7 linked regions of the Homo sapiens genome follow. The protein of the gene in region 7 purifies or fractionates together with the protein of the main gene of each other region. This does not show direct contact. Each region holds a gene or a part of one and is shown on either strand. Other genes may lie near its edges.

Region 1 (3,500 bases), on a different chromosome or scaffold from region 7:
TGTATGTTGGGGTGTGTTCTTCCAGGCTGGGCTGTTTTCTTTGAACTCATTCATGCGTTCATCCACTCATTCAGTGTATGCTGACTGAGCACCTACTATGTGCCAGCTGTCAGCCAGGCGCTGGGGATACGGAAATGAGCTGGGCAGCCACAGTCCATGCTCCTATCAAGCTTATGGTAGTGACTCAGTAATTGTAAAAATATATAAATAGTCATGTTTGTGGTCACGGCTCCAAGCCAAGGTCCAGGCAGGTAGTCTGGGACATTGTGGAAGGCTTCCCTGAGAAAGTGCCACTGGACTTGAGATCCGAGGGTAAGTTGGCCAGAAGAGCATGGGTAGCCTGTGCCAGGCAGTGGCATTCAGCACTGGCAAGGCTGGGAGACAGGAAGAAATTTGGCACATTTGAGGATCAGAAGAGGAAGTTCCCGTTCTGGCAGGAGGAGAGCATGGGCAGGTAGGGCTGCAGAGGTGGGAGGGGCCGACTCTGCTTGGCTCTGGGGTCATGCTGAGGAGCTGGGCCACAGAGTCTACTGCTGAGGTCAGGGACTTGGTCTGTGTGGCTCACAGCTATATGGCTGGTGCCTGGAAGGACGCCCAGCACATAGTAGGTGCTTAGGGAGTATCAAAATGAATGAGCGAGGGAGTGAAGGGAAAAGATGGGCATTTTTACCAGATGGGGATGGTTCTACATGAACATTTCCATAACCTGCTTTTTTTTCTGCATAAACAGCAAATTTTTAATGTCTTTCTGTGTCAATACATATGCTGTTGTGATGAAATTCTTGATGTTTTCTCATGCTTTCCTTTCTGTCCAGGAAGGAGTGGAGGCCCTGGTGCCCGGCCCTTGGTGCTGAGTATCCAGCAAGAGTGACCGGGGTGAAGAAGCAAAGACTCGGTGAGTGTGCCCCACAGAGTGGCCAGGAGCAGGGGTGCACAGGGGTCCTATGGACCAGGCTGAGCAGCTTGGATTTGATGCAGGGTCAGTGGAGAGCTATAGAGGGGGTGTCAGCAGGGGGCATGACATGATCCAGTGTGCACTGGTGAGAGATTGTGGAGGCCTGGACCAGGGAGGCAGTGACAGAAGTGGAGAGAAGGGATGTGAGTGCTATTTAGGGAGGTAGAGTAGACAGGACGTGGTGAAGGATTGAATGTGGGGCATGAAGGAGGGGAGGTGTCAAGGATGGTGCCTGAGTTTCTGGCTGGAGTGGATGATAGAGGTGGATGGGGAATGACATACAGCTCGTCAGCTACTGTAGGTGTGAAATAGGCTTCCGGGTGATGTCCTGGGACTTACACCAGGATCTTTCTTCTGCTTCTCCATTCGCCACGTTTCTGTAGAAAAGACTGTTCCCATCGACTGTAGGTTGTCGTAGAAAGAGCTTGGTGCCTGCAGGATCTGGGCATGTCCTCTGCATCTCTTTGATGTCCCCTTGTTCTCCTCTCTGTCTGTTAGAAGCACAGAATGGGTGGGCTGGAGTTGCAGGGAATGAGGTTGGTAAGTTGGTTTAGAGTCAGCATCATGGGCCTTGGATGTCAGGCTAAAGACTTTAGACTTTTTCCTGAGGGCAATACAGCAGCATTGAAGGTTCTTAAGCAGAGAAGCAATATCCATGTGTTGATCTGTCCATTGCCCATCCGTTCATTCTTTCACGGAACACTGTCTGAATGCCTGCTGTGAAATAAAGTGGCAAACAAAAGTGCAGATTTGCATTTTTATGTGCTGAAAGGTGGCACTGGTCTGTGTGCGGGATGGGTTGGGAGTGATTGAAGGCAGGAAGCCCACCAAAGAGGCAGGAAGTGATGAGGTCTTACTAACACAGTGGCAGTGAGGATGGAGGCAGGTCAGATTCAAACTTATTGATGGGTTAGATGTGTGGGATGAGGACAAGGGAGCATTTAAGGAGGGTTTGCGGGCTTGGTGACTGACAACATGGTGGTGCTGTCCCCAAGACTGGACACCCTGGAGGAGGAGTGGAATTGGGGCAGATGAGTTCTGGTTGGGCCATCCTGAGCCAAGAGCTCGGTGGGTCTGTTCACCCTCTGTAAGCTCCTCGAAGGCAGAGCCTGTGACTCTCTTGTTCATCACCCTGCCCACTGAACATCTGGACGGGTGGCTGAACTAACAAGGCTGTGGAAGAGATGGGTCTGGCCTGGGTAGGGGAAGGAAATGTGTATGTCCTGGGTGTCTCCTGGGGTCCAGACCCTACGTTTGGTGAGATGGGCACTGGGGTTATGTAGAGGGTGCAGCAAGAGGGGCTGTGTCACAGGCTGGAAAGGTCAGATGGGGAGGGTGGGTGTAGGGACACTATGTGTCCCTTTGCCTCTCCATCCTCAGATGATGGTCTGACCTAACTCGAAGTCCAGTCTTGCCAGAATAGGTACCTGAAGGTGGAGCCCTCTGTCCTCTCGGGAGGCCACTAGCTGATGGCATGTCTGGTGGGGTGCAGATGGGGTGTGCTATAGGACCTGACTTCTGGAGGCTGGGTAGGGCTGATGTGGGGGTACAGGGGAAGATACTCTGAGATCCTGAGGCCAGGCGCCAGCAAATACAGGAGTTAAGCCAGGTTGGAGCTTCCTTGGGTACAAGGCCCAGGGTGCCCACAGGGGATTGGGTTCTGGGGCAGGGGCCAGGTCAGGCTCTAGGCTCAATTGGCAAAGGATCTTGTTGTCTGTGTTGGGGTTTCTCAGCCTCAGCACCATTGACATTTTGGATCAGATAACCCTTATTGTGGGGGCAGGGCTTGTTATTGTAGGGTGTCTAGCAGCATCCCTGGTTTCTTCCCCCTAGATGCCAGTAGCATCTCCCCGCTTTCCCCAGTCTCGACAATCAAAAATGTCTCCAGTCGTTGCGTAATGTCCCATGGGGGCAAAATTACCCTGAATTGAGAACCTCTGGTCTACAGCCTCTTGCTGCTTTCACTATACTGTACAAACCTGGAAAATTGGGGAGGGTCAGTGGGGAAGATGGATAGTGATGGGCCACTTGAGCAGAGTTCTGAGGGGTGAGTGAGTGCTGGGGCAGGAGAAGGACATTTTTTTCCAATAGACAGAACGGCAGGTACAGAGGCTTGGAGGCACAAAGTTGGGAAACAGTAATCCAAGGGGGACCCCAGCCCCAGAGGAAGGGGCCTGGAGGCTTAGGGGTTACAGCCGCAGGAAGATACCTCTGCTGGTCCCCTTTGGTCATTTGCCTCCAGAGTTAGTCTCCTGCTGACCCTTTGCCGCCTCCAAGTCTCTGCGACACTCCTCCTAATCTCCCCCTCCACTCCTCAGTGAGATGGAGAAACTGAGAGCTGCAACAGGGTGGGACTCAGTCCAGCTGGTGGGAGCCCCGATACCAGCCGTGGGAGGGAGGGCTGTTCCTGGCTCTGCTCACGGATTCTGGCCAACTGGCTGGAGGAGGGAAGGCGGCCTCACCCTCTTCCCCACAGGCCCCTCCTTCCCTGGGTCAGGGGTCCTGGCTGAGACTATAATTTATTCCCGTCATAATCCAGTGGTTG
Region 2 (3,500 bases), on a different chromosome or scaffold from region 7:
ACCATAAACTGGGTAGCTTGAACAATAGTAATTTATTCTCTTGAAGTTCTGGAGGTTGGAAGTCTGAAATCAAGATATCGGCAGGGCTGAGCCTCTCCATGGGGACCCAGGGGAGAACTGACTCTTGCAGCTTCTGGTGGCTCCAGACGTTTCTCAGCTAGTGGCTGTCTCACTCCAGTCCCTGTCTCTGTCTTCTTCTCTTCCTTCTCCCACCCAAATCTCCTTTTGGCTGCCTCTCTCTTTTTTTGAGACAGAGTCTTGCTCTGTCACCCAGGCTGGAGTGCAGTGGTGCAATCTTAGTTCACTGCAGCCTTCAACTCCCAGGCTGAAGCGATCCTCCCACCTCAGCCTCCCAAGAAGCTGGGACTACAGGTGTGAGCCACCACGGCCAGCTAATCTTTTATTTTTATTTTTTAGGTGGAGTCTCTCTCTGTCACCCAGGCTGGAGTGCAGTGGCACGATCTCGGCTTACTGCAACCTCCGCCTCCCAGGTTCAAGCAATTCTTCTGTCTCAGCCTCCTGAGTAGCGGGGACTACACGAGTGCACCACCACGCCCAGCTAATTTTTGTATTTTTAGTAGCGACGAGGTTTCACCATATTGGCCAGGCTGGTCTTGAACTCCTGACCTCGTGATCCGCCCACCTCAGTCTCCCAGAGTGCTGGGATTACAGGCATGAGCCACTGCGCCTGGCCTGTTTGTTTTTTTTGTTTTTTGTTTTTTTTTGAGATGGAGTCTCCCTCTGTCAACCAGGCTGGAGTGCAGTGGTGCAATTTCGGCTCACTGCAACCTCCGCCTCCTGGGTTCAAGCGATTCTCCTGCCTCAGCCTCCAGAGTAGCTGGGATTACAGGCTCCTGCCACCATGCCCGGTTATAATTTTTAATTTTTTTTTGTGGAAAAAAAGTCTCCCTATGTTGCTCAAGCTGATCTTGAACTTCTGGCTTGAAGTGATTATCCTGTCTTGACCTCCCAAAGTGTTGGGATTACAGTTGTGAGCCGTTCTCTTGTATGAACACTTGTCACTGAATTTAGGGCCCAGGTGGATAATTCAGAATAATCTCATCTTGACATCTCTCATTTAATTACATCTGCATAGCCAGGCCTGGTGGCGTGTGCCTGTACTCCCAGCTACGCAGGAGGCTGAGACAAAGAATTGCTTGAACCCCGGGAGGTGGAGGTTGCAGTGAGCCAAGATCGCGCCACTGCACTGCAGCCTGGGTGACAGAGCAAGACTCCGTCTCTTAAAAAAAAAAAATTACATCTGCAAAGAGCCATTTAAAAAAAAAGTAAGGTCCTAGTCACAGGTTCTGGGACATGGATGTCATCTTTTCAGGGGCTGTGACCCAACTGACTACATCCTTCATGGTTCTGATGGCTTTCACCGCCCCCTGCCAGCATGTTGTATATTAATTTGTTATTCGTATATGTTCTCCTTGCCTGGACCTGGCTGCAAGGATCCAGAGGGATAGGGACCCCTTTCATTGTGTTTGTTGCTGTATTTGTATTGCTCAGAACGTAGTAGGTACTCAGTAAATATTCGTTGCATGAATGAATGTGTGTTTTGTTTTGTTTTGTTTCTTTGAGACCGAGTCTTACTCTGTCACCCAGGCTGCAGTGCAGTGGCGCGATCTTGGCTCACTGCAACCTCCACCTCCCGAGTTCAAGCAATTCTCCTGCCTCAGCCTCTTGAGTAGCTGGGACTACAGGCACGCACCACTATGCCCAGCAAAGTTTCGTACTTTTAGTAGAGACGGGGTTACACCATGTTGGCTAGGCTGGTCTTGAACTCCTGACCCCAAGTGATCTGCCCGCCGCAGCCTCCCAAAGTTCTGGGATTACAGGCGTGAGCCACTGCTCCCAGCAAATGTGTGTTTGCTGCTCTGTTTCCCTGCGTGTTTCTTGCCTGTCTTGTGTGTATCTTTGTGTCTGGGGCCATCCTGCCCTGTGCTGCCCAACCAAGCCATCTCTGCCCACAGGTGCCCGCCTGGCTGGGTGGGTGAGCGGTGTCAGCTGGAGGACCCCTGTCACTCAGGCCCCTGTGCTGGCCGTGGTGTCTGCCAGAGTTCAGTGGTGGCTGGCACCGCCCGATTCTCATGCCGGTGCCCCCGTGGCTTCCGAGGTGAGAGGGGAAGAGTCTGGAGGGGAGGTAGTCGGGGGTGTGGTCAGTCCTAAACTCACCCTGTCCTGGTCCCTCCAGGCCCTGACTGCTCCCTGCCAGATCCCTGCCTCAGCAGCCCTTGTGCCCACGGTGCCCGCTGCTCAGTGGGGCCCGATGGACGCTTCCTCTGCTCCTGCCCACCTGGCTACCAGGGCCGCAGCTGCCGAAGCGACGTGGATGAGTGCCGGGTGGGTGAGCCCTGCCGCCATGGTGGCACCTGCCTCAACACACCTGGCTCCTTCCGCTGCCAGTGTCCAGCTGGCTACACAGGGCCACTATGTGAGAACCCCGCGGTGCCCTGTGCACCCTCACCATGCCGTAACGGGGGCACCTGCAGGCAGAGTGGCGACCTCACTTACGACTGTGCCTGTCTTCCTGGTGAGTGAGCCCTACTCAGGAGAGTCAGAGGGGTGGGCGTGGGGACAGCAGGCCAGCCCGGCGGTGACCATCCTTGCCCCCTTCCCTGCTAGGGTTTGAGGGTCAGAATTGTGAAGTGAACGTGGACGACTGTCCAGGACACCGATGTCTCAATGGGGGGACATGCGTGGATGGCGTCAACACCTATAACTGCCAGTGCCCTCCTGAGTGGACAGGTGGGCACTGCGGCCAGAGGGAGCGGGGAGGCAGGCCTCGGGTGGACATGCGCCAGGTGGCTGGACTGCTGCATCTGTGTGCCACAGGCCAGTTCTGCACGGAGGACGTGGATGAGTGTCAGCTGCAGCCCAACGCCTGCCACAATGGGGGTACCTGCTTCAACACGCTGGGTGGCCACAGCTGCGTGTGTGTCAATGGCTGGACAGGCGAGAGCTGCAGTCAGAATATCGATGACTGTGCCACAGCCGTGTGCTTCCATGGGGCCACCTGCCATGACCGCGTGGCTTCTTTCTACTGTGCCTGCCCCATGGGCAAGACTGGTGAGTGGCCGTTTTCTCTGCAGGGAGCCATGGATGGTTTTTAGTGAGGGCAAATAAGAAGTCTGACTTGAGTGTTAGAAAGATTATGCTAGGCTGGGCACAGTGGCTCATGCCTGTAATCATAGCACTTTGGGAGGCCCAGGCGGGCGGATCACTGGGGTCAGGAGTTTGAGACCAGCCTGGTCAATATGGTGAAACCCCATCTCTACTAAAAACACAAAAATTAGCTGCGCGTGGTGGTGCACACCTGTAATCCAAGTCTCTCAGGAGGCTAAGGCACGAGAGTAGCTTGAACCCAGGAGGTGGAGATTGCAGTGAGCCAAGATTGCACCACTGCACTCTAGCCTGGGTGACAGAGTGAGACTCCTTCTCAAATTTAAAAAATAAAAAAAAGATTATGCTAGGCCGGGCACAGTGGCTCATGCCTG
Region 3 (3,500 bases), on a different chromosome or scaffold from region 7:
AATCAGTCAATCAATCAATCAATCAATGTATAATTTCCCTAATCTGTAAGAATTCATGTGACTCAATGATTTAAAAAAAAAAAAAAAAAAAACCTAACCTCTTACTAGGAGTGAAGAAAACCTAGGAGAACCAGTGTACAAACAGTGTCTGTGTCATGAACAGATTCTTGACCTCATTCACAGGAAGAGAAATGCACATTTCGAGGAGTTTCCACATCTCAGTCCTTGACACTTGCTATGGCCTGCTCCCTGTGGCTGGAAGGGCCATCTCTCCTCTAGGATGGAAGTTCTCCAACTGCTCCTGCTCAGCCCATTGCAGTCCTGTCTCCCTGGCCTATCGTCTCCAACTTCAAATCCTCATGGGCTCAGTTGTGCCCCTCCTCAGTATTTACAACTTCTTCCAGGTGGACACACTCAAGACAGCGGCTTCAAGCATCACCTATGTGCTAGGGTCCCCAAATGTGTACTGCTAGCCCTGCCACACACTGTCCCCTCAGAGGCCAAGTTACCCTGAGCAGTTGAATTTGGTGCCTCGATTGTCCTCATTCCCCACACGTCATCCATCCACACCCCAAATATGTCTTGAGTCCTTCCTATTCCCGTCCTGCTTCCTGGTCTTGACCCTGGACCACAGCAATAGGAGCATTTACAGATGAGTTTGTGTCTGCTTCACGCTGGGTTCTTCCTTCTCCATGCTCTGCTCCTGGCAAGCCCACATGTGCAATGTGAGGGTTTGCCCTCAGGCAAGCCTTTCCTGTGGCCCTTAGTCATGGAAAAGAAATGCAACTTTGTAAATGGATTTTAAAAGCCACTGCTTGCCACACTTGCCTGCCCTGGAAACCTTCATGCAGCAATCAATTCCTAACTCATACACATGGGGGAAAAGGGGGAAGAAGTGCGAGGCGAACACAACAGTCAAGCACACTTCAGGCCAGGTTCCTGCTGCATCTCTGGGGGCTCAAATGACCTTACGGGACACCACATAACATCCCAGGGGAGCGCCTCACACTCAAGGCCCTCCACCTGCTTCCTGTCTTGCTCCGGTTCAGTCCAGGAGTGGGCACTCAAGATGTACATCCGATGCTGGTGGCCCTCTGCTGAAAACTTCTCAGGGACATCCATCACTCATGAAATAAAATCCAGCTTCATCTGTGTGGGATCTGACCCCACGTGTCTCTCTAACTTCCTAACCCTCCACTCCCCACAGCAGCCCCCTGCTGTTGCTCCATCTTCTCCAACTCTTGCCCCCTGGCAATTGTTCCAGTGGAACCCTCCTAGGAGCACTCTTCCTGGCTCTCTGAACCTCTGGCCCTGCCCTCCTCCGGATGTCAGCCCAAAGTCACCATTGCCTGGAGGCCTCACCAGCCCCATCTCTGTCCCACTCAATTCTCTCTCAAGGTTCCTATCAGTTTCTTTGGCTGTCTCATTCATTTGTGTGTCTTGATACCATCCTAGCAGGAAGGCTCCAGAAGGACAGAGCCTTGAACTGGAGGCACCCAATGCCTCTCTGTGGAATAAAGAACAAGGAAGTGCAAAGGAAACAGACTGGAAGCTCATGGAGACAAGGGGAGGAGGGGCAAGGATTAGAGACCCATCTTGAACATACCAGGTGGACACAATCCCTCTGAGGGGCTGGACCTCTTTTGTTGTGGGGCCGCTCTCTGCTGGGGAGCTAGGTCTTGTTGGGTGATCAGAGCAGACTCAGCTGAGACCTGTGGGGACAAAGCAGGGATGGGCATGAGTGGCTTCCAGACCTCACCCCTCCCAGGATCCACTCACATTCTCTTGAGCCCAGGCACCCAAGCTAAACAGAACCCTCATCTTTCTTGCAGCTCTCACCTCTCAAACATCCTTTAGTGTTTGTTTGTCCCTTCATATTTCAGGGAAGGCCAAGTAACATACACCTGCAAAACTCTTCTAAACATGTTCATTCCAGAAAATGTGGGCAAGGAAAGTTTTTACAAGAATACACAGACCACACGTGATATTCTCAGCTAAAGATAGCATCCATTAATATTTTGTCTCATTTAGTTCCACTATTTTTCCATAGGTATGCCTATTCTCTCTTTCTCTCTTTCTCTTATTCTCTCTCACACAGACATACACACAGACACACATTTTTATAAATGGGGGTTATAATATAGCAAACTTAAAAAATTGGGATACAGGATCAAACATTAAATAGTGAACTTCTGATTTAAAAGGTGCCTGACATATAGACCAGAGAGCCCAGAAATGAACTTGCACGTACAACCATGTATTGCTCAACATTGTTCTGAGCAAAGGGTCATTAGGCAATTGTGTTGTGTGAACATCAGAAGAGTGTACTTACACAAACCTAGATGGTGTATCCTATGACACACCTGGCCTATATGGTATAGCCTTTTGCTCCTAGGCTACAAACCTGTGTAGCATGTTACATAATTGCATGGAGCCACCATCACATATGCAGTCTGTTGTTGACAGAAATGTTGTTATGTGGTGCATGACTGTATATGATCAAGTAATTTTTGGCAAAGGTATAAAGACCATTTAATTGAGAGGACAATCTTTTTAAAAATGGTCTTGGGAAATCTAGACATTGACTCATCACAAAACAATGACCTCGGACCTTTAACTTACACGTATACAAAAATTAACTCAAAATGGATCCAAAATCTAACATAAAAGTGAAAACCCTAAAACTTAGAAGAAAACATAGGAACTATTCTTCCTGACCTTGGATTTGGCAATGATTTCTTGAATGTGATCCCCAAAACACAAGCAATATAGGAAAAAAAGTAGATAAATTGCACTATGTAAAAATTAAAAACTTTTGTGCATCCAATGATGATCAACAGTGAAGGGGCAACCCACAGGAAGAGGAAAACATTTGCTAGTTGTATATCTGATAAAAGGTTAATATCTAAAATATATAAAAAACTCCAACTCAACAACAACAACAAAAAGCCAACAATGTGATTAAGAAATGAACAAAGAACTTGAATGGTAACAAGCTCCTGAATAGCCAATGTGTCAAAGAGGAAATCAAAAGGGAATTTTAAGAGTATATTAGAAAATGAAATGGAAACATAACATAACCAAATGTATGGGATGCAGCAAAAGCAGTTTTAAGAGGAAATGGCAATAAACGCCTACATCAAAAAAGAAGAAAGATCTCAAATACAAGACTTAATGTTGTACCTCAAGGAAATAGAAGAAAAGATACACTAAGCCCACAGTTAGCAGAACAAAAGAAATAATAAAAATCAGAGCAAAAATAAATAGAGACTGAAAAAAATACAAAAGATTATCAAAATTCTGTTAGTTTTTTGAAAAAATAAATGAAATCACTAAACTTTAACTAGACTAACTAAGAAAAAAGAAAGAAGACAAATAAATTAAATCAAAAATGAATGAGGAGGCCAGGTGCAGTGGCTCATGCCTATAATCCCAGCATTTTGGGAGGCCGAGACGGATGGATCACTTGAGGCCAGGAGTTGGAGACCAGCCTGGCCAAC
Region 4 (3,500 bases), on a different chromosome or scaffold from region 7:
CAGAGGTCACGGCAATACAGATCCTCTTCAACGCGCATGCACACGACACCCCTCCTAGCACCCATCAACACCTACGGCATGCACACACTGCAGTGCCCACGCACACACTGACTTGTATATGGCCTGCCCAGTGACAGCCCTCGGAAGGCACCCAGTGACTTGGGCTCCCCTGTGCTGAGGACCTAAACTGGGAAGGTGGCCTATAGCTGCAGGCCTGTCCAGGCTGCACAGCTCACCTGGTGGCTCCAATAAAGACTCTGATGGGTGTGGGGAGAGTAACTTTCCTCTTAATTTCAGAGAGGCTTTTGCTGTTTCCTGTCTTTTTGGTTGAGACAACCTGCTACCAATTAATGCCCAAACAGAGTATTGCATCCTCCCAGAGAGCACTGATTCATGACAGAAGTCAAGCTGAGTTATAGCAAGTAACTATGACAAAAAAGAAAACCACCTGGCGCTGAGCACTTGGTCTCCTTAAAACAAGTAACTTGGTACGCAGCACTTGCTCGGTTCCCACATGCCAGCTGCCAACTCTGATAAAAAAGCACCCCTTGCTGGCCAGGGGCATTCCACACGTACCAGGAGGGGCAGCACGTGACCTCACGACATTTTTAAAGTCTCCTGCATCACAGGTGCCCACACCACCACTGCTCCATATGGGAAAGCAGGACAGCCAGAGGGCTGTGCGACATCAGGCAAGTCACTGCCCCTATCTCTATTCCCAAGCTATCATCAGAAATGATTGTAGAAGCGACCCCACCTACCGTCCATGCTGCTGTGAGGATGAAACGAGGTAACAGAGGAAAGCGCCGCAGGAAAGCATATCTGGACCCAGGTACTGTTTCTGCATTACTTTCAACAGGATGCACTAGTTTTGGCTCTGTTTTATCACTAAGCAGCTGACATTACCCAGAGGATCCTTGACTATGCCTGCTAAGGAACTCTATGAATTAGTGACGGGGGTGTGTGTGTGTGTATGTGTGTGTGTGTGTGTGTAAGAGAGAAAGGGCATTGTGTGAGGACTTCTCAGGATGGTGGCAGGTGCCCATTTTCCTAGGGTTACCATGAAAGTTATTTCTCACAACAATCACTGCACTGAAATTATAATAATATAGTATTTTCATAGCCTCCCCTAACATGTAGCTGTAACCTTAGTAAAAGATTTGATCTATATTACACATAATTACTCACCCAGAAAGAGCCAACTATGAGCTATCCATGGAAATGAAGAAATAACACAGCAAATTCTCCAAACTGACAATAATCCCCAAATTCCCTATCAGTTGGCTTCGGAATATGTTTTTGTGCTTCTGCACCTGACAAAAGAAGCATCAGATATGTGGAAATTTTTTAAACTTCCAAAGGAATTAGAAGCTACACTTTGTGGATTTTATCCCATATTTATCTTCCCTCCTTTTAGAGTTACTCTCAGGCAGATCAAAGCCTTAACCTGAGGAAAAGCTGCAAAAAGGGAAATTACTTTTAAATTTTCAGCTTCAAGTTGTAAGGGTGTGAGGTGAGTCTGCATGTAGTAAGGTGAATGGGGAGGGGATTATTAAGATAAAGAACTGTTGTGACTTTTAAGATCTCTTCCTTTGAATTCCCATTGTGTGTCACAGAGGAATTAAGAAAAAGTTGATGACTGATCTTCTGAAGGAATGCATGCAGAGAAGTAAGAACAACAAGGACTGTGCAAAGATTGGGCTGATGGTAAGCACCAGGAAGGCCAGCAGGGGCAACTGAGGACTGACTCCATCCACCTGCCTTCAGTGCACAGTCAAACAGCAGGCAACGGGATAGACGATTAAGTTGAGGGAAGGGGAAGAGTGAATGAGTAGGGGAAAGGCTGGCAGGGTGTGTCTGAAGTTGGGTGAGAAAGTGTGGCTGACAGAGAGAAAGAACCTCAGAGGGAAAGCAATCCTCAAACTGGCCCAAAGATCCCCATAGTCGGCAGAATCTTCTTGTACCTTCAAGAAAATGGTATACAGAATCATTTACTGGGCCTTGGGGTTCCCTGGTTACAAGGTATTCTTGTCAATGACTAAAAATCTCCAGGCCACCAAGAGAGGTTAATTCAGACCCCCATCTGGAGCTCTGGGTAGACCTGGGAGGAAGCTGGAGCCCTGGAATAGCAGAACCTTTGTGCCACCATCGCTGAACAGGAGAAACCACCAAGGGCAGCTGTAGGAGCTCTGGCTCCAGCACTTGACAGGACAAAGACAGGAGATGGGAGAGAAGGGCTCAGACCACAGCCTTTCTTTCATGACGCTTCAGTACATGAGCTGTCCGGAGTAAAAAAAAGGGCTGCATGGCAGTGACAGCTACAGCATGACCTGGAAGACCTGAGAAGATTCAGGGTGCACGTTGAGTCGTGCTACACAGGATGAAGCTGGGGGAGGTCTGGGAGATTTCCAGGGCTGAGGCGGACAGCCTGTACCACGTTGCATTTTCTTAGCAACTCCCCAACTTACAGCCTATCGGATGCTGTTAGATTCTGACACATTTGGTACGAACCAAATGGCTATGACTTAATTGTGCATTGAAAACCGCATTGACAACCAGGAAAAACTGGGAGAATTTGATGCAATTGGTAGTGTTTCTGGTTGATACTGCAAATAAATAAATAAATGTATTCAAACTGAATAAAGCAATACATGATGTAATAAAAATTACTTAAACTAATTATAATACAAATATAGTAGGACCTTCTAAAAGCATGTACATAAATCATGTACATTTAAGAAAGGTTACAGCTACACAAACTTGTGATTTTACATTTGATTAATCCTAAGGAATTGACAGGCACTACACACTGGTCTTTCCATCAGAGAATGGACTTACTGAGTAACTGCAGCTTTTTCTCTCTAGAATCTAAGGGCTGAGAAGAGAGAATTTTAAATGTGGAGGAGATGTTAAGAATCAGTGTCCAACTCTCTTATTTTATAAACGAGGAACTTGAGGCCCATGTAAATTAACAGACAGTATTTATCTTTTAATAACAATCTTTATCACTGATATGAAGCTGTTTGACTTCCATAAATATTGCACATATTTTAATAAGATTTATAGACCATCTAACAGTTAAATTTATATAACCTATGATTGTAATTCAGAACCAGAGTTTCTAATGAAAACTAATAATTTGCTTTTGTGCAACCTGAAGGATTTATTGTATAAGATTCCTAAGAAAAATGGTGAATATGTTTAACTAGAATTTCAGAATGAAAACTTACAGAATCTGGGTCTTAATGAACCAAATCCTCTGTAAAATTCAACAATCTTCTATTTCTTATATAAGTCTTCTTAAAGTATTTCTAATATGATGCTTTTAAAATTATCTAGTGGCATCTGAGAACACTTATAGAAGCTGCAAAGCCTTAAAAACTGAATCATAATGAAATATTTATTATATACCTTCTTTTGCATAATCAAAGTTTCAAGACCTGAATCGTGAATATTCTGACAATCCTCTCTAGATAGTGAGTGAGATTCTTTTTTTTTCC
Region 5 (3,500 bases), on a different chromosome or scaffold from region 7:
AATTACTAGAACAGTTTTTTTAGTTCCGTTCTGCTTCCAGCCTGAAAGATTTAGTACCAAATATGACAGTATCTGTCACTGCAGGCTGCTAGACTCTAGTGTAAGAACATAGTTCTATTTCTGTGAGCTAACTGCTGCCCTTCTATAACCTTCAGTTTCTGCCAGCATCGTCTGCATTCAAACCAATGACCTCGAGGTGAAAATCTCCAGATAACATGATTGGTCCCCATGCTCTCATGATTTCCTTACTTAAGCAATTAAAGGCCAAAGCAAGATGCTTAGTAACTCCTTTTCCACATAGAGGCACAAATAAAGGAAAGCTGGTCACAAGTTTTGAACCAAAGAGTTAAAAGAAGAATCATAACTTGTCTCTATTTAATGATTGGAAACTCTCACAGACTTCTGTGAAGTCTCTCCCCCTTTTGTACCTTTCTTACAAGTGATGACTATATACTTTTACCTGGCAGGGGAGAGACCACGGTCACGAAGGTGGTTTTCCCAGGGCGAGGCTTATTCATTGCACTCCAGATGTGCTGACCCCTGCGATTTCCCCAAATGTGGGAAACTCAACTGCATAATTGTGGTGGTGGGGGACTGCGTTCATGCTTTTCCCTGGTTAAATTAAAAAATTTTTAAGTTATTTTAAAAATATAAAAAACAAGATTTGACTGTATTCTGCCTTGCGCCACTCTTGTTTGTCTTTCACTAGTGCAAAAATTGTGATATAGCTGTCTTCATGTACCCCGCAATACCTGGTGCAGTAATTCTGTGCATAATAATGTATGTCTGTTTGTTGTATGAATGAAATTTATATTTCTAAAGAAACATGCTAGCTACAATTATTGTGATAAGAAAGCTTAACAACTTTTTCTCATTGAAAATTGTCACGAAACAATGAGCTTTTCAGAAATGATTTACTTACAAATTCCATATTTGAATGCAGGACAGAATCTGGATAGTATGCTTCATGGCACTGGGATGAAATCAGACTCCGACCAGAAAAAGTCAGAAAATGGAGTAACCTTAGCACCAGAGGATACCTTGCCTTTTTTAAAGTGCTATTGCTCAGGGCACTGTCCAGATGATGCTATTAATAACACATGCATGTAAGTATTTTATGCAGCCCTTCTTAAGAGTTAGGAGAATAGAGTTGCATTTAGTGCTATTTTAAGAATTATTAAACTTGTCTGCGGTTTTTTTTTCATTCATATATAGTATCTTTCCAGAAAGCCAAAAAGCCTTTTGTTTTGTATATTAGAACATTATTCCATTAAATGATTGATAGGTGAGTTACTATATTAGAATTATGTTATAATGCAGCTTTTAAAATAAGATCAAAGGGATCTAGTATTTAACATCTGAGTTTTTAATGATCTTTTAATCTTAAATTTATTGATGCTCATTTTAGAAAACTTAGAGGTTACCAAAAAAGAAATCAGAAAACTCACTGACAACCTCCTACTTCTTTTTAATTTAAAAAAAAATTTTTTTTTTAACTATAGACAGGATCTTGCTATGTTGCCCAGGCTGGTCTCAAACTCCTGGGCTCAAGCAGTCCTTCCACCTCAGCCTCCCAAAGTGCTGGGATTACTAGGGTGAGCTGCCACACCTGGCCTCCTACTTCTTAATTAGTTGAAATATTTTGCAGATATATATAAATCATATTGTGTTAATTAATTTTATGCTTTTTTCTTACCTGTGAATTTACCAATCCAAATCTGATTTATAAAATGATTTTAATTTTTCTAGTGTATTTCGTGTTAGCTGCACAACATGTTTATATATGATCATGTAATTCTAGTCCATATTTGTTGGAAACATTGACATATTGACTTAATAAGACCAAAAAAAATTGCCTGAACAACTCAACCTCATCAGTCAATTAATTGTCTCCTTGTTATAGAGGCAATAATGAATGTCATGTTTTATACTTTTAATAATTGTATGTTCCCTGAATGGACCAGATAGAAAGCATGAAACTTTACACGTAAACTCTTGAACCTGCATGACGGTCATCGTGTCTTAGGTTTGCTGCTTGTCCCCTGGTGGTGGTGGGCTCTGCGTGGCTGACTGTGACTAGTTGTTCATTTTTACCTTGGTGAGAGTTTGCCAGCAGGGAACTGCTCTCTGCTATGTCACCAAATAATGTTTTGCTAAACTTCTTGTCTGTAGTACCTGCCTGATGTAATGGGCTGTCTGTTAGTAGCTTAGTAACCCAGAGTAAAACTGAATCATCCATTTTAACAGAATTCTGCCCCACACTTAACATTTTCTCCTAACAGAAAACCAAGAATTCTGCAAAATTCTTCTAAGTAGAAGCAGCACAATTCCTGATATTAACAATAAATAGGAGTACAGAAAAAGCTTTTAGAAATTTCTCCCATACCTGTTAAAGTCTATATGAATATATTAAGGGGAAACTCCAGGATGCTAACACTAAAATAAGAATTTCATTATATATGTATGTAAATTTATTGAAAATTTATTCAAAAGTCCTCTCCCTGTTTTCCCATCATATTCAGTAAAAGGTGCCTTTTAGTCCCCTTTTTTTTGGTCATTAAGCCTATTTGTATGTTTCAGAGAAAAGTTTGTTTTTATCTATTATCATATACAATATGGAAGTACTGAAAAAATGGGTAAAAAGAGACAAAGTTATTTTAAAGTATGTTTTCAAAACATGACATAAAATTTTATAAATCAGCTTTCTGTGATCACATGACTGATTAGCAAAGAGAAGTCACATAACTCCTATGTGGAGGACTTGTTTAATTGAAATCCTTTTCTTCTTGACAAAGGGTTGTCACTGGCCTTTTAGATCTTGGCTCAGACATAACTTTCATTTGTCTTAAAACCTCTGGCGTTGCCAATAAATCACGTGTGAATGCAATTCTAAGTCACAAAACAAAGTATTAAAGGCCATCTGTACCTGTTCACATTCAGACTCAAATTTCGTTAGTACTTTCTATGTGAATTTATGTTTTGTTTTGTTTTGTTTTTTTCTGTTTTAGAACTAATGGACATTGCTTTGCCATCATAGAAGAAGATGACCAGGGAGAAACCACATTAGCTTCAGGGTGTATGAAATATGAAGGATCTGATTTTCAGTGCAAAGTAAGATATAATTTGGGACCCATGAGACAAAGAAGGGAGGGGCCATATGAAAGCATCGATTTCCCCCAGGAGAAACATGCCTGGTGTACACATCGCTGTATGTTCACATCAGTAAATATATTGGAGGAATACCTACTGTCTAGATTCTGTCCTGTATTCATATGTAGAATTTATAACTAAATCATTTCTGAAAAGCTAATTGTTTGATTACAATTTCCTTTTTTATTTCCATAGACAGCACCTGGCTCTGTTGCCCAGGCTGGAGTGCAGTGCTGCGATCTCCGCTCACTGCAACCTCAAGCCAGCCTCCTGCCTCAGCCTTCTGAATAGCTGAGACTACAGGTGCATGCCACTATACCTGGCTAATTTTTGTATTTTTTGTAGAGACA
Region 6 (3,500 bases), on a different chromosome or scaffold from region 7:
CAAATAATGTTAAAACCAGTATTTTAGGTGAACCATGGTCCCAAGAACTCTATTTAAGTAATTCCTAGTTCGGTGTCCCAGGAGCATTTGGCTTTACTGCACCTATTTTGGCCACATGTCTTTGTTTAAAAGGAAAAATTATCTTAGGTTATAATACAGCTATTTTGGGAGTACCTTAAGTTTAACATTAGATTACTAGGATTCGAAAAAATGTACCCAGATGGTAGATGCTGATGAGAATTTGACACAAGAATTCATTTGAAATTGAAGCTTTTGTAGTATTAGTCAGAAAAATTTATTGACATCTGGTTTTGAACAGCATAGTGAGTGGAGATTGAGATGATCAGTTAAAATTTAATGGATTGTGGCCGGGCACAATGGCTCACGCCTGTAATTCCAGCACTTTGGGAGGCTAAGGCAGGCATATCACCTGAGGTCGGGAGTTTGAGACGAGCCTGGCCCACGTCTACTAAAAATACAAAAATTAGCCAGGTCTGGTGGCATACGCCTGTAGTCCCAGCTACTTGGAGTCTGAGGCAACAGAATTGCTTGAACCTGGGAGGTGGAGGTTTCAGTGAGCCGAGATCCCACCATTGCTCTCCAGCCTGGGCAACAAAAGCGAAACTACATCTCAAAAAAAAAAAAAAAAAAAGAAAGAAAGAAAATTTAATGGATTATGGAGCTCTACTTCACATTAGTACACCTCGGTCTCTCTGTTTTTCTGTCTCAATTCAAGATAGAGTTCTTTGTAGCGGTATGGTTTAGAGGTGGTATGTATTTTACAAGTATGTCAGTTGGCTCTGTATATCCTGATGATACCGAAGCCAGGACCAGACCCCTACGTCAGTTATATCACTAAATATTCTGTTATTAATTTTCAGATTGGCTCCTAGTCCCAGCCAACTCATGTTTTAAATTAATATAGTTCATTGTCACACTGGACTGGAAAAACCAAATGAAATGTCTTTATTCTATGAAGATGACTTGTGTAGACTATACAGACTAGCAACAGCAGACACTTTCAGTGCGAGTTATTTTAAAAAATTGAAGATTTGACTGGCAGAAAAGTTGCTGAGATAGGGAAAAGGGATATCTATTGACAGATATATGTAGAATTAGGGAGAATTTTATGTTTTCATAAGTGTCTCAATTATTTAAGATTTAATTTGGTGTGCATGTGGAATATAATGGTAACATGGTTTGTCTGTGATTTGTCTTTTGTCTTAACAGATTATTTTTCTAACTTTAAAAAAGTATACATCACTTGAGGCCAGGAGTTTTAAACCAGTCTGGGCAACACAGGAAGACCCCATCTCTACAAAACATAAATTTTAAAAAAAGTTAGCCAGGGTCACAGTGTGCCATAATTGTGCCACTGCACTCCTGCCTGGACAACAAGAGTGAGATCCTGTCTCTCCAAAAAAAAAAAAGTATGCAAGTGATAAATATTCACTACAAAATATTTGAACATGCAGATACACAACAAAAAGGAAAAATTCCCCTGTACTCCTATTACCTAGAAATAACAGTGTTGAACTGTAAATGTCTCATTCTAGGCCTCCTTTCCATTATATGTCTGCCTTTTTAAAAAGGATTATATGATGCCTATTGTTTGGCAAGTTTAGCTTTTTTCATGTAATAATAGTACACTGTAAATATCTATTTGAGTAATGAAATTTAATTTTTTTTTTTTTAAAGACATGGTCTCTCTCATGCCCCAGGCTGGAGGGCAGTGGCACAATCTTAGCTCGCTGCAGCCACGACCTCCTGGGTTCAAGCCATCCTGCTGCCTCAGCCTCCTGAGTAGCTAGAACCACAGGTGCATGCCACCACTCCCGGGTAATTTTTGTATTTTTTGTAGAGACAGGGTTTGTTTTGCCATGTTGCCCAGGCTAGTCTTGAACTCCTAAACTCTCCTAATCTCAAGCGATCCCACCCACCTAGGCCTCCCAGAGTGCTAGGATTACAGGTGTGAGCCACCATGCCTGGCTGAAATTTAATGTATATTTTTTTTGACACAGAGTTTCACTCTGTTGCCCAGGCTGGAGTGCAGTGGCACCATCTCAGCTCACTGCAACCTCCGCCTCCCGGGTTAAAACGATTCTTGTGCCTCAGCCTCCTGAGCAGCTGGGACTATAGGAGTGTGCCACCATGCCTGGCTAATTTTTGTATTTTTAGTAGAGATTGGGTTTTGCCATGTTGGCCAGGATGGCAAAATTTAATTTTTAATGGCCGTTTAGTAGTCCTTTGTGTGATGTACTATAATTTATTTGTCTCCTATGATTGGAATTTAGGTTGTTTCTAATTTTTGCTGACACAACACTTATATGTACCCATTTTGCCTCTTTGAATATTTCCATAGAATAACTTCCTGGGAGTAGAATACTTTTCTTAAAGGATTTGTGCATTTCAAGGCTTTCAAAATACGTTGCCAAATAGCTTTCGAGAAAGGCTATTTATTTCAGTTTTTGGGTTCTTATCTTTCTAATTGGCTTTATGCTTACATTAAAATATGAAATTTTTATTTAGTTGCAGAATGAAGAAGAGTCTGGAGAACCTGAACAGGCTGCAGGTGATGCTCCTCCACCTTACAGCAGCATTTCTGCAGAGAGCGCAGGTAGGTAACAGGGCAAGGTGATCACGGAATCCTTAAAAACACTCTGTGCTTTGACATTACAGTTTAAAAAAAAAAAAGCTTCAGAAGCAGTTGGAAGAAAGGTTACAAAGCAAGTCTGGATTTTAAATAATTGAGAAGTGGATACATTTAAAAATCACCCCCAGTCTCTTACATTCATCTAAGAATGTCTTTTGGTTCAATTGTTATGTATGTACTCTTAAGGGAATGGCTGGGTTTTGTCTGCTAGAGTTAGTGGAACTCCTTTTATTTCAATTCAGCTAATCATCAAAAAATTGTGACTGTTAAAATTCTGCAGCATATTTTGACTACAAGGATGAGTCTGGGTTTCCAAAGCCCCCATCTTACAATGTAGCTACAACACTGCCCAGTTATGATGAAGCGGAGAGGACCAAGGCTGAAGCTACTATCCCTTTGGTTCCTGGGAGAGTGAGTATAATTTGCCATGTTACTTGATGGCTGCTCTGTGGGAATTAAGTTATTTTCATTATCCAATTTTGATTCGTTACTTATGATTGTATTGATTAGTGAAAGTAGAGCTAATTTTAAAAATCAGGTACATTTGCTTTTGGGATAATAAACTCATCTCTTCTTAAAAATGATGAGGTAAATTACTAGTCAGACCTGCTCATTTTTCCTTCATCTCTCCTATTACCACTACTTTTTCAAGTCTCCTGGGATGGCTGAAGTATCTTGAAGCAGAAGCACACTAATGTTTCCTTGATTCTGCACACTTAATATTTTGCTGTTGGGTGGATAGCTGCTAGGGAGGTCTAGGAAGAGAATAAATATATGCAAATTTGTAGAATTAAACTCATAAGAGGGATCTTCACATTGATTTAGATGAACTCCGTTCTTCCAGCAG
Region 7 (3,500 bases):
CTTGAGTAACTATAATGCAGAAAGCTCCATGGTATCTAAAGAAGTCAACTCTCTTAAATCTGAGATTAGAAATATTTCAGAAAAATGCCATGAAAATGCACCTGAACCTGATAGCATGACCTGCTGTGTATCAGAGTCAACCCTTCTATATTCTATTGAAGAAAGGAGACTAGCCTGGATAAAATCATTTAAACCTTGGCTTGAAATTTTCAAGCAAAATCAACAAAAGAAAATTGTTAGAAGAAAGAGACCTGTGAAATGCCCAGCCAACATGACACCCGCTTTGGATAAACTGGAAATTCTTCGATGTGGCCCTTGGGATACTTTACAGCAGGTATTTCTAATTTTATAATAATTTTTCACATTTAATTACAATTAGCTCTTTAAAGTATAACTTTTCAGATCTTAGAAAAAGAAATATTTTGTATACAAGAATTGTCTCTTGTTTAATAAAGTTATGAATGAAATATTACCCCATTTGGGAGGGGATATATCTCAACAAATTGTTCGAGGCATCTTCCCTAAGTGACACTCTATAAAAAGCTTTGATTTATATTTTTTAATATCTTGAAGCCTGTGTTCAAGGGCCCTCCAGTCATTATTTAAACCTCTAAGAATGGAAGCATATAGAAAGTTAGGGTTAGAATTATAGTAGGAAACTCCTAAGTAAACAGAAGTTTGCTTTAGACTTGAGCCACCACACCACCTAGTGGCTGCTTTTGGAATAAAGTGGATTTTATGTCCATGACCACTGTTGTGAAAGAAGGGCTTGCATGATAGAAGACCCTGAAGACCCTAGAATTCCCATCTAGCAACAATTATTTAGCGTGTGCTATTTAAAGGTGGTGCATATATGTCTGAAATGTAAAATAGTTGTCATCAAATGTTACTAATTTTATATGGTTATGGAGAACATAGTTTCAACCAAAATTAAGACACAGAAACTAATAAACGTATAGAAAAAGAGAAAATAATATTTTAAACAGTGTAACACTAGAAAGCACTTATGATTAAAATACATATATTTAGCTAAGGCCTGAAAGTCAAAAGTATTCAATAAAGTTTATTTAGTTTCTTGATAGACTTTCTTGCTAGACAGATGCCTAGGAGAAAGAACAATCATATTAATAGATAAACATTATTTTGTTTATTCACTCAGCAAATATTCATCTATCCAATAAGATGATCAATATTTATTGGTTGACTAATAAACAAAGAAAACCCAGTCTTTTACGGAGCTTAAACACACATAAATACGTTATTATGGATCTTGAGAATTGCTGTAAATAAGGCTTCAGAGTATCCTGTGAGAGAATAATAAAATAGTGGGATTTTGAAGATATTTCTGGTATATGAAATAGCAATATAAGAGATGAGAACTGGGACATACACTTTTAAGTGTCTTTTATTTCCTGGGTAATGTATTTGCCACATCTGTCAGGTCTGCAGAGCTACATATAGAATCTCTCATCTGCTCTTCTCCAATTTTTTCCTTGCGCATGTTATCTCTGGAATCATGTTTTAGCACTTTTCTTTCTCTAACATATTGCTGCAGGCCTTCCAATATGATAACATTAGCAATTATTTAGTTTTCCTCATGAGTATCTGTTAAAGCTAGGCAAGAGTGATGGCTTCATGCCTACAGTGTACTTGCTTCAAAAGTGAAAATGAAGTTACAGAAACAGTAGTGTTCCTCCCTTGCTTTGTAGGTCTCTGTTCTGTCCAATGAGAAGGAAGTTAAGATGTGTGAGCCTCTTTCTCCTTGGCATTTCTTCTCCAGCTGACTCTCTGTTCCTTCTTTCGAACGTTTGTCAATTTACATAAAATGATAATTAACTCTTTCTTTTACTTCTTAGAGCAAGGCCTGGCAAACTATTAAAATCTATAGAATACCTGAAGCTTTGTAGAAATGTGGATTCTGATTCAATAGGTCTGGTGATCCACCCATTCTCCATTCTTGCAATGATTCTAAATGATGATGTTGGTGCTGGTGAGTGGACTAATCTGAGTAGCAGTGTTCTAAAGGGCACCATAATCCTCTCATCCCTTCTTAAAGCAACTATCTCAAGCTTTTAATTTAGCTTTGAAGCATCAAATAGGCAGTATAAAGATGAAAAATACATGTGAATGTGCCATATAGATGCTAAAATGTTAAGAAAATATCATCTTTTGTTACCAGACAACTCCTGTAAAGATTCTGTTTGGTAGATGGCTTACCATGGTGTCTTTATTCACCACTGTTACTACTGATCCATGGCTCAGTTTCTTTTTGACTTTCTGATCTTTTAGCTTCAGATCTTTATCCTTATCCTGATCACTCACTGCCATCCTTGGGATGTCCTTCTGGAGATCAACTTAGAAAAGTTTATTGTCTCCCAGTAATGCATTCATTTTGCTTACATTAATCTCTTACTTTGAGACTTCAAGACATAAATCGGATCTTCGTGTTGTTCATACTTCTTTACACATTGCCAGGCAAATAAAGATACTCCTCAAGTTACAATGAAGTTACATCCAGATAAACCTACATAGCTTACAACTGGGCAAAATCATCTGGCAACGTGGTACACTGTAGAGTATTTGTTGTTTACCCTCATGATCATGTGACTGACTGGGAGATGCAGCTCCCTGCCGTTGCCTGACATTGTGAGAAATGATCATACTTTATATTGCTAGCTTGGGAAAAGATCAAAATTCAAAATTTGAAGTATGGTTTCAACTAAATGTCTATTGATCTCACACCATCATAAAATTTAAAAAAAATTCTACGCTAAACTATCTCTTGTCAGGAACTATCTGTAATGACTTTCATTACCTGATTATAGGATGGATGAGTGGGGGGATGAATCAATTGATGAATAAAGAATTCCAGTCGAAATATTTAATGTAGAGGACGGGTTGATGGGTGCAGCAAACCACCATGGCACGTGGCACGTGTATACCTATATAACAAAACCGCATGTTCTGCACATGTATCCCATGTATACATGTAACCTAAAGTATAATTAAAAAAAAGAACTGCAATTGAATGTTAATCTTATCTCCTCATTACTACCAGTTTCACAGTTTAGATAAAGTATATTGACTGAAGAGGAAATGAATGTAAAATTACTGAAGTGTAGCTTATTAGACTACTAAGTTCTATGTTAAGACTGTTTCTAATTTTATTTCTGCCACTTATGGCTGTGACACCTTATGCAAATGCTTGACCTGTATGAGCCTCAGTTTTGTCTTTCACAAACTGGAACAGCAATATCTATTATATAGGATCACTGAGTTTTAAAATGCTGTATGTAAAGAACATGGCCCAGGGCTTCTAATACCACTTGTCAAATGTGGGTCTCAAGCAAGCAAAGAGAAGGCAAATGGATTGTTTTCGAGGGCTGCTTAATAGCCCGTTTCATCAAAAAAGTTATAAAGTTGAAAATACTAGACCATTGGGTTATATGCAGTAATATCTCAAAAGAGAAGACTAAAGAGCAATAATTATGGGTAATGAA

Evidence for each region.
Region 1: the proteins of LRRIQ1 (region 7) and PTPRF purify together in Homo sapiens (affinity purification with mass spectrometry; 2 studies listed by BioGRID and IntAct, with this or other methods). This does not show direct contact.
Region 2: the proteins of LRRIQ1 (region 7) and NOTCH3 purify together in Homo sapiens (affinity purification with mass spectrometry; 2 studies listed by BioGRID and IntAct, with this or other methods). This does not show direct contact.
Region 3: the proteins of LRRIQ1 (region 7) and TNFRSF10B purify together in Homo sapiens (affinity purification with mass spectrometry; 2 studies listed by BioGRID and IntAct, with this or other methods). This does not show direct contact.
Region 4: the proteins of LRRIQ1 (region 7) and MYO5A purify together in Homo sapiens (affinity purification with mass spectrometry; 2 studies listed by BioGRID and IntAct, with this or other methods). This does not show direct contact.
Region 5: the proteins of LRRIQ1 (region 7) and BMPR1A purify together in Homo sapiens (affinity purification with mass spectrometry; 2 studies listed by BioGRID and IntAct, with this or other methods). This does not show direct contact.
Region 6: the proteins of LRRIQ1 (region 7) and NDFIP1 purify together in Homo sapiens (affinity purification with mass spectrometry; 2 studies listed by BioGRID and IntAct, with this or other methods). This does not show direct contact.

What each region holds. Positions count from the first base shown.
Region 1 is NC_000001.11:43,537,383-43,540,882, forward strand, and holds part of PTPRF (receptor-type tyrosine-protein phosphatase F isoform 1 precursor), read left to right. Parts: intron 1-815; 5' UTR 816-895; intron 896-3,500. UniProt on the Homo sapiens protein: Possible cell adhesion receptor. It possesses an intrinsic protein tyrosine phosphatase activity (PTPase) and dephosphorylates EPHA2 regulating its activity.
Region 2 is NC_000019.10:15,190,996-15,194,495, reverse strand, and holds part of NOTCH3 (neurogenic locus notch homolog protein 3 precursor), read left to right. Parts: intron 1-1,976; coding exon 1,977-2,119; intron 2,120-2,197; coding exon 2,198-2,536; intron 2,537-2,628; coding exon 2,629-2,751; intron 2,752-2,838; coding exon 2,839-3,072; intron 3,073-3,500. UniProt on the Homo sapiens protein: Functions as a receptor for membrane-bound ligands Jagged1, Jagged2 and Delta1 to regulate cell-fate determination.
Region 3 is NC_000008.11:23,041,532-23,045,031, forward strand, and holds part of TNFRSF10B (tumor necrosis factor receptor superfamily member 10B isoform 1 precursor), read right to left. Parts: intron 1,713-3,500; coding exon 1,607-1,712; intron 1-1,606. UniProt on the Homo sapiens protein: Receptor for the cytotoxic ligand TNFSF10/TRAIL. The adapter molecule FADD recruits caspase-8 to the activated receptor.
Region 4 is NC_000015.10:52,308,881-52,312,380, forward strand, and holds part of MYO5A (unconventional myosin-Va), read right to left. Parts: 3' UTR 1-3,500. UniProt on the Homo sapiens protein: Processive actin-based motor that can move in large steps approximating the 36-nm pseudo-repeat of the actin filament. Can hydrolyze ATP in the presence of actin, which is essential for its function as a motor protein. Involved in melanosome transport.
Region 5 is NC_000010.11:86,889,119-86,892,618, forward strand, and holds part of BMPR1A (bone morphogenetic protein receptor type-1A isoform 3 precursor), read left to right. Parts: intron 1-943; coding exon 944-1,106; intron 1,107-3,008; coding exon 3,009-3,111; intron 3,112-3,500. UniProt on the Homo sapiens protein: On ligand binding, forms a receptor complex consisting of two type II and two type I transmembrane serine/threonine kinases.
Region 6 is NC_000005.10:142,129,279-142,132,778, forward strand, and holds part of NDFIP1 (NEDD4 family-interacting protein 1), read left to right. Parts: intron 1-2,529; coding exon 2,530-2,617; intron 2,618-2,933; coding exon 2,934-3,064; intron 3,065-3,500. UniProt on the Homo sapiens protein: Activates HECT domain-containing E3 ubiquitin-protein ligases, including NEDD4 and ITCH, and consequently modulates the stability of their targets. As a result, controls many cellular processes.
Region 7 is NC_000012.12:85,056,851-85,060,350, forward strand, and holds part of LRRIQ1 (leucine-rich repeat- and IQ domain-containing protein 1), read left to right. Parts: coding exon 1-334; intron 335-3,500.